Linked DNA regions of Homo sapiens. The protein of the gene in region 2 purifies or fractionates together with the protein of the main gene of each other region. This does not show direct contact. Each region holds a gene or a part of one and is shown on either strand. Other genes may lie near its edges.

The links.
Region 1: the proteins of LRRFIP2 (region 2) and TMIGD1 purify together in Homo sapiens (co-immunoprecipitation; one study listed by IntAct). This does not show direct contact.

Annotation. Positions count from the first base shown.
Region 1 is NC_000017.11:30,320,350-30,324,172, forward strand, and holds part of TMIGD1 (transmembrane and immunoglobulin domain-containing protein 1 isoform 1 precursor), read right to left. Parts: intron 1-3,823. UniProt on the Homo sapiens protein: May control cell-cell adhesion, cell migration and proliferation, cell morphology, and protects renal epithelial cells from oxidative cell injury to promote cell survival.
Region 2 is NC_000003.12:37,167,977-37,171,799, reverse strand, and holds part of LRRFIP2 (leucine-rich repeat flightless-interacting protein 2), read left to right. Parts: intron 1-3,823. UniProt on the Homo sapiens protein: May function as activator of the canonical Wnt signaling pathway, in association with DVL3, upstream of CTNNB1/beta-catenin.

The DNA.
Region 1 (3,823 bases), on a different chromosome or scaffold from region 2:
TTATCAGTCACTATAGGCATAGTGCCTGTGTTTGCAAGCTTTCTAAGAGCCTTTGAAAATATTTGAGACCCAGAAAAAAATGATTGGCCCCAAGATATGAAAAGAAAGTAGCAAAATTAATCAAAATTAATCAATGTTTAAGCATCTGTAAAATGCAACCTGGCATCAACTCTAACCGAACTGTTAAATAATAATGTTTAAACCTCAAGAACCAAATGAGTAACTTATTTATAACAAAATTCAAAATCTATACAAGTTATAAAAATTCTTTCAAAAATTTTATAGCAGAAAGCACATACAATGTGCTTTGCTTTAATATCTTTGATATGATATGGAATGAAACTCTCAAAAGTAAAAGTGAAAGCCAGGCAGCGTGGCATATCCGTAGTCCCAGACACTTGGGAGGCTGGGGCAGGAGGATTGCTTAAGCCCAGGAGTTCAGGGCTATAGCACCCTATGATTGCACCTATCAATAGCCACTGCTCTCTACCCTAGGCAACATAGTGAGACCCTTTTTTTCTTTTTTAAGACAGAATCTCGCTCTGCCGCCCAGGCTGGAGTGCAGTGGCTTGATCTCGGCTCACTGCAACCTCTGTCTCCTGGGTTCAAGCGATTCTCCTGTCTCAGCCTCCCAAGTAGCTGGTACTACAGGTGTACACCACCATGCCCAGATAATTTTTGTATTTTAGGTAGAGACAGTGTTTCGCCATGTTGGCCAGTCTGGCCTCGAACTCCTGACATTAAGTGATCTGCCTGCCTTGGCCTCCTAAAGTGCTGGGATTATAGGTGTGAGCCACCATGCCTGGCCAACCCCTTTTTTTTTTTTTTTAGAGATGGAGCCTGGGTATGTTGCCCAGGCTGGTCTTGAACTCCTGACCACAAGCAATTCTCCTACCTGGGCCTCCCAAAGTGTTGCAATTACAGGCATCAGCCACTGCACCTGGCAGGACCCCGTTTCTTAAAAAAGTAACAAAGTAAAAGTGCTTCAGTTCAACAAAGGTTTTAAAGTGACCTTGTCTAAGCCCCTGGATTCTGATGCCATCCAACGACGGGAAGGAGCTTCAGTCATGGCTTAAGTAACATTTTAGGCATTTAAAGGAAATTGAGCATGTGCTATTTATCGCACAATTGAGTTTATGGATTGAGGTGCAGTCAACAAATATTTACTGAGTGACTAATGTGTGTTATGCACTGTGTTCAGCACTGCAAAAAATAGGACAGGTGTAGAAGGCTCCTCTGCCTTCGTGGAGCTCATCTTCTAGTGAGGGAGACAGACATTAAACAAACAGACACTACAGATTAAGTATTAGAAAGGAAACAGGGTCATGAGTTAGCAAGTGAAGGGCAAAAACCAGGGAAGAGGGGAAGAAGTGACTTTAGGTAAATTTAATTTCAAAGCCCAATCCCTATATACCTTAAGATTATGAAATAGGGTTTATCTCCCCTGTCCCCATAACTGTATAACACACTAACCAGTTATTATTATAATTATTTTTGGAGACAGGGTCTCACTCTGTCACTCAGACTGGAGTGCAGTGGCATGATCATGGCTCACTGCAGCGTCGACCTCTAGGGCTTAAGAGATCCTCCTACTTCAGCCTCCTGAGTAGTCAAGACTACCAGTGCGTGCCACCACACCCAGTTAATTTTTTGATTTGATGTAGAGACAGGGTTCCAATATGTTGCCCAGGCTGTTTTGGAACTCCTGGGCTCAAGCAACCCTCCCGCTCGGTCTCCCAAAGTCCTGGGATTACAAGCATGAACCATCCCACCCAGCCTGTAACTACCTTTTTATCATTTCCTGCTCTGGATAATTTTGGGAAATAAATGGATTAAATTTTTGCCCTCTCTTAGCTGTTTCTAAAAATTATTCTCATGAAGGTATGGGTCATATCACCCCTATGGAGAAACTTTGCTCAGGGAGCCTTTTTCTAGTAAGCCCTGGTTCTGTACTAGCCAGCTCTGGGACACACCAAAGGCCCGTCAACCTTACTGGGGAGCCCCTCTATTTGCAAGATATCAAAACAAAGGGGAAGTAAAGGTGGGACAATAAGAAAAAGAAATCAGAATTCAGTCACAGGTTGGAATATTTTTACCAAGCCAGATAAAATGAAGCCACATGTGACAGCTCTTACTCTATTTTTTTATTTTTATTTATTTATTTTTTGAGACAGAGTTTCACTCTTGTTGCCCAGGCTGGAGCGCAGTGGTGCGATCTCGGCTCACTGCAACCTCTGCCTTCTGGTTTCAAGCAATTCTCCTGCCTCAGCCTCCCAGGTAGCTGGGATTACAGGTGGCTACCATCATGCCCGGCTAATTTTTTTTGTATTTTTAGTAGAGACGGGTTTCACCATATTGGTCAGGCTGGTCTCAAACCGCTGACCTCCTGATCCACCCGCCTCGGCCTCCCAAAATGCTGGGATTACAGGCGTGAGCCGCTGCACCTGGCTGACAGCTCTTATTCTATACACAAACCGAAGTAAACTACCTTACCCATTGGCTTGCTTTGGATTCCAAATTTCTGTTGAAAGTGACTTTGGTCGGGGCATGGTGGTTCATGCCTGTAACCCCAGCACTTTGGGAAGCTGAGGTGGCAGATTGCTTGAGCCCAGGAATTCAAGACCAGCCTGATCCACATGGCAAGACCTCCTCTCTACAAAAACAATTTTTTTGATTAGCTGGTTCTGATGGCACGCACCTGTCCCAGCTATTCAGGAGGCTGAAGTGGAAAGATCGCTTGAGCCTGGGGGGATGAGGCTGCAGTGAACTATGATTACGCTACTGCACTCCAGCCTGGGTGGCAGAGCGAGACCCTGTCTCCAAAAAAATAAAAGAAAAAGAAAGAAAAAAGAGACTTTGGCAAGGGTAATTACATAACTGCCCCTCTCCCCTTGTCCTGTTTTATGGTCTCATTTGTAACCAGACCTGATATTTCCCTCCTATATTCATCATGGTTAAATAATCCCAACACATGGGCTAAATCTTGTGCTCAAGAAAAGATCTGTGATGTCGTTTGTAGCTTTGCATGGCCTCATTTAGGTACTTCCTCACTGAGCCGTGAAGCCAGGTGAGGGCTCATGAAAATCTTGGCATTTAGCCCAAGCCCCAGCAGCAGAGCATTTATGCCACCAGCCGTGGGAAGTAGCTAAGCAAGAAGAAATAAGAAAAACAAGTTGGTTTGGAAGAGCCCCACCCAAAACAAGTTTCTGCCCACCTGAAAGCCAATTTGCTAAGCTAGCATCCTGATTGCCACATAAGCTGTACTTTTTTTTAATGTGACACAGAGCAATTATGATTTCTTCTTAACCAGGAGGGATATAATTCCCTGGCCTGCAAGTGTGGTGTTCATAGTCAGGATGGCAGGGCATGAGGCCCACCCTTCCATGCTTTTGTGGTCTTGGGGGAGGTAAATAACCACAAAGCTTTTTCACTGCTTCTATCTCATGGGTATTCAGGATATTTGTGGGTTTGGTTTTTAAAACAAGTAGCCCCTGAGCAATTGTTAGTGCTCCGCAGGACGAATTACTGATCATTCCAGGAATCACAGTGATGGGCATTCAACCACCAGTAAGTCTTCTTCCCCACTAGCCACTCTTTTCATATCCCATAACTCTTCCCCTCAAGGGGAAGCAAATAAGATGTCCTATGGTTACATCACCACAACACTTCTGGCAGGGGTTCAGCTGGCTTCCTGGTGACTGACAAGACTGGCAATAAGTGAGTACAGGGAGGCAAATGACAAAGTGAGTAATGTTCTAACAAGATATGGGAGTCTCAGCTTGTTGGGCTGCTCCTGGTGTGCTAGCATGAGAGCAGACCATGT
Region 2 (3,823 bases):
TATAGTTTAAATTCTTGCCCTGCATAAGTCGGCTACTATATTATTAGTCAGGAAAGAAGTAAATAATCTACCTCCTTTTTTCCTTTACCTTCCACATCCTAATCTATACATAATAAAATAAACCTCTATGGAGTTTGAGATCCAAAAATCCTTTTGCAAACTAGAGTGCTATTTGATGGATTACTTTCTCAAGGCAGGAAGGAGGTACAGATTCAATCTTTATTCTGCAAAGTTTTTGTAAACAGAATAAAGGAGGCTTAGGTTTGATGTTATATAGGTTACTTGTGGCCAGGAGGAGGTTCAGGATTCTTTGCCTTTTTGAAATGAGAGAGACACTAGAGAGAAAAAAAAAAAATTACATACTGAAGGGCTATAGTTTGATGAAGTCGGAACTCATGAGTGGCAGCTTCCCTGGCTTGTGCCCAGGGTCTATTTTGAGACCTTGTCAAAGCTTGCCTGACAGAACCTACCACATAACCATAATCTGGCCTGGTCCTCTTGCAAGTCAGGAAGGCCTGCGGTTTAGGATCAGTGGCAAGCACAGAAGGGGGAGTTATAAAGGACATTTTGCCTTCAGAAGATTAAGGCTAGGTTTTGGGGTGAACAACTACTTAGCCCGTATATCCGAGGATCCAAGTTTTTAGTGCTACCTCCTCCTCCCCTGCTTCTTCCTCTTATTAAGGAAAGCTAAGGAATAAAGGTTTTGTTTGTTTGTGTGTTTGTTTTGAGACAGGGTCTCACTCTGATGCCCACGCTGGAGTCCAGTGGTATGAACACAGATCACTGCAGCCTCGACTTCCTGGGCTCGGGTGATTCTCCCACCTCAGCCTCCCAAGTAGCTGAGACTACATGCATACATCATCACACAGGGCCAATTTTTGTATTTTTTGTAGAAACGGGGTGTCCGCATGTTGCCCACGCTGGTCTCTAACTCCTGGGCTCACATCGTTCACCCACCTTGGCCTCCCAAATTGCTGGGATTACAAGCATGAGCCACTGCGCCCGTCCAGGAGGAAAGTTTTTAGAAAAAGGTGCACAAGAAAGAGCATAGGATTGTGCCAGCATTGATGTTATCTTCTGGTTATATGAGAGTGTTTGCCAAGAATCGGTCAAATGTTTTACATTAGGGAAAAAGCATTATTGTTACTGGCATAGGGAGGGCCCCAGTTAAAATAGCAGTCCAATTCAGAGACCTTCGTATTTGTCGTTAAGATCAAAAGGACTCTTGGAATAATGGACTATGCTACAGGATTATTTTAAGTTCAGATAGATAAATTAGCTTCTTCCCAAATTCTCATTCTGCTTTTCCTGTGGTACTATATAGTATCATGAAGTTATATCTTTAAACTCTTAGTTTGTACTATGTGGTGTCTTATGAAAACCTTGATTTGTTTATACTTAGTGAATGAAACACTTGGGTTTAAAGTTCTTTAACTGATGTCACTTCTTAGGCTAGAAAGCTGTTGAAAGAACTTAGTGTTCCACCCTTAGACCAAGGTTCATGTCACCATATTTAACAGCAGCTTTGTATTACGGTCAAGATTGTTTGAAGAATTCAGCATACAAACTTAATTTACAGATGCAAGCCTGCAGATGGACCTCCCCACCCCCACTTTTTTGCTTTAGATTAGGTTGTGACTGGAGGAAATTTAGTTTTCCTTTGCCTTCAGTTATTTGCAGCTGTTCACATTTATGATGATGAGAATGATGATGATGATAATGTATTTAGGATTCAGTGTGAGGAGAAAAAATAAACTAGTTTTTCTTTCTTCCTTATCAGTTTATTCCCATTATCTTATTTTCCCTTCTCTGTCTCTGCCTTCCTTTCCTCCTCGGGAAAAAAAAGAAAAAGAAAAGAAATAAAAAGCAGCAGTGAAAGAAAGTGGTAAAGAGCTGGGAAAAGCCTTGGAATACATACCAGGGTGCTTTCTCAGAGGTGGAATATAAACACCTTCATTAAAGAATCATGGATTATCTTTTTCCATTGTTTTCATTTTGAACCCTGTATATCTTAGTGTTCCTTCATTACCACATTTTAACTACTTTTGATATAACAGATATCTTTACTGCTTTAGGGAAGCAAATTTAATTTTTATGTTACTGTTCTGAGCATGTTGTTCCTTACATGCCCACTTTCCTAAGTAGAAATATATTAACAGCTAGAAGAAATCTTTTGGCTTTCTGTTTTGTAAGTTAGAGTATACCGTACTGTATGCAGAGGATTAGGATGTTAAAATATTTATTTCCCTGTTAAATGGCTTAAATCATGAACAAACTGAATATATAGCATTGCTTTTTTTAAAAAGTGAGTATCCCAGTTAAGTGACCTAAGGATTATAGGACTAAATGTAGAAAAAAATTCAGCTTTAGATTAGATGTTTTTTCCCTTGTCACAGATAATGCTGTATCTAGGTGAACAGTCAAGGAAATGAGAGGGCATTGTTCTTGTCTTGCCAGATTCATCCTTTGCAATCAAATAAAGTTTGTTTTGTTTTTAAAATTGTGGTACAATATAGATAACATAAAATTTACTCTGTTGACCTTTTTTAAAAATATTTTTATTATGGTAAAATACAGTCATTTGTTGCTTAATGACAGGAATATGTTCTGGGAAATGCATCATTAGGTAATTTTGTCAAGCAAACATCATAGAGTATACTTACACTAACCTGGACAGTATAGCCTACTACACACCTAGACTATATGGTATAGTCTGTGGTTCCTGGGCCATAAACTTGTGCAGCATGTCACTGTACTGAATACTATAACTGTAGACAATTATAACACAGTGGTAAATTTTCGTGTATCTAAACATAGAAAAGATACAGTTAAAATATGATATAAAAGATTAGAAAATAGGCCAGGCATGGTGGTGTGCACCTGTAATTCCAGGTACTCAGGCTGAGGTAGGAGGATCACTTGAGATCAGGAGTTCTAGGCTGTAGTGTGCTATGAGCACATCTATGAATAGGCACTGCGTTCCAGCCTGGGCAACATAGTGAGGCCCCATCTCTTAAAAGGGCACACGTGTATAGGACAGCTCCATTATAATCTTATGGGACCACTGTAATATGTGTAATCCATTGTTGACTGGAACATCCTTATGCAGCACATGACTGTGTACATAACTTAAAATTTATCATTTAAACCATTTTTAAGTGTACAATTCGGTGGTATAAAGTACATTTACATTATTGTGTAACTATCACCTCTATCCATCTCCCTAACTTTTTCATCATCCTAAACAAGCTCTGCCCATTAAACAATATCACCTCATGCCCATAGCCCTTGGTAACCATTGTTCTACTTTTTGACTCTATGAATTTGTGTACTCCAGGTACCTCGTATAAATGGAATTATGTAATATTTGTCTTTGTGTCTGGCTCATTTCTCTTAGCATGATGTCTTCAAGATTCATCCATGTCATAGCATGTATCAGAATTTCATTTGTTTTAAGGCTGAAAAATATTCCTTCGTATGTTTATACCATATTGTTTAATCATCTTTTGATAGATGGGTTGTTTCCATCTTTCTGCTTTTGGGAATAGTGCCACCATGAATATGAGTATGCAAATGTCTGTTTGAGTGCCACATTCAATTCTTTTGTGTATGTACCCAGAAGTGGAATTGCTAGTAATTTGATAATTACCAAATTTCATTTGGTAATTCTATGCTTAATATTTTGAGAAACCACCATACTATTTTCCACAGTGGCTATACCATTTTACATTACCACCAGCAATGCACAAGGGTTCCAGTTTCTCCACATCCTTGCCAACATTTACTATTTTCTGTTTTCTTATTGATTGATTTTTATTTATGT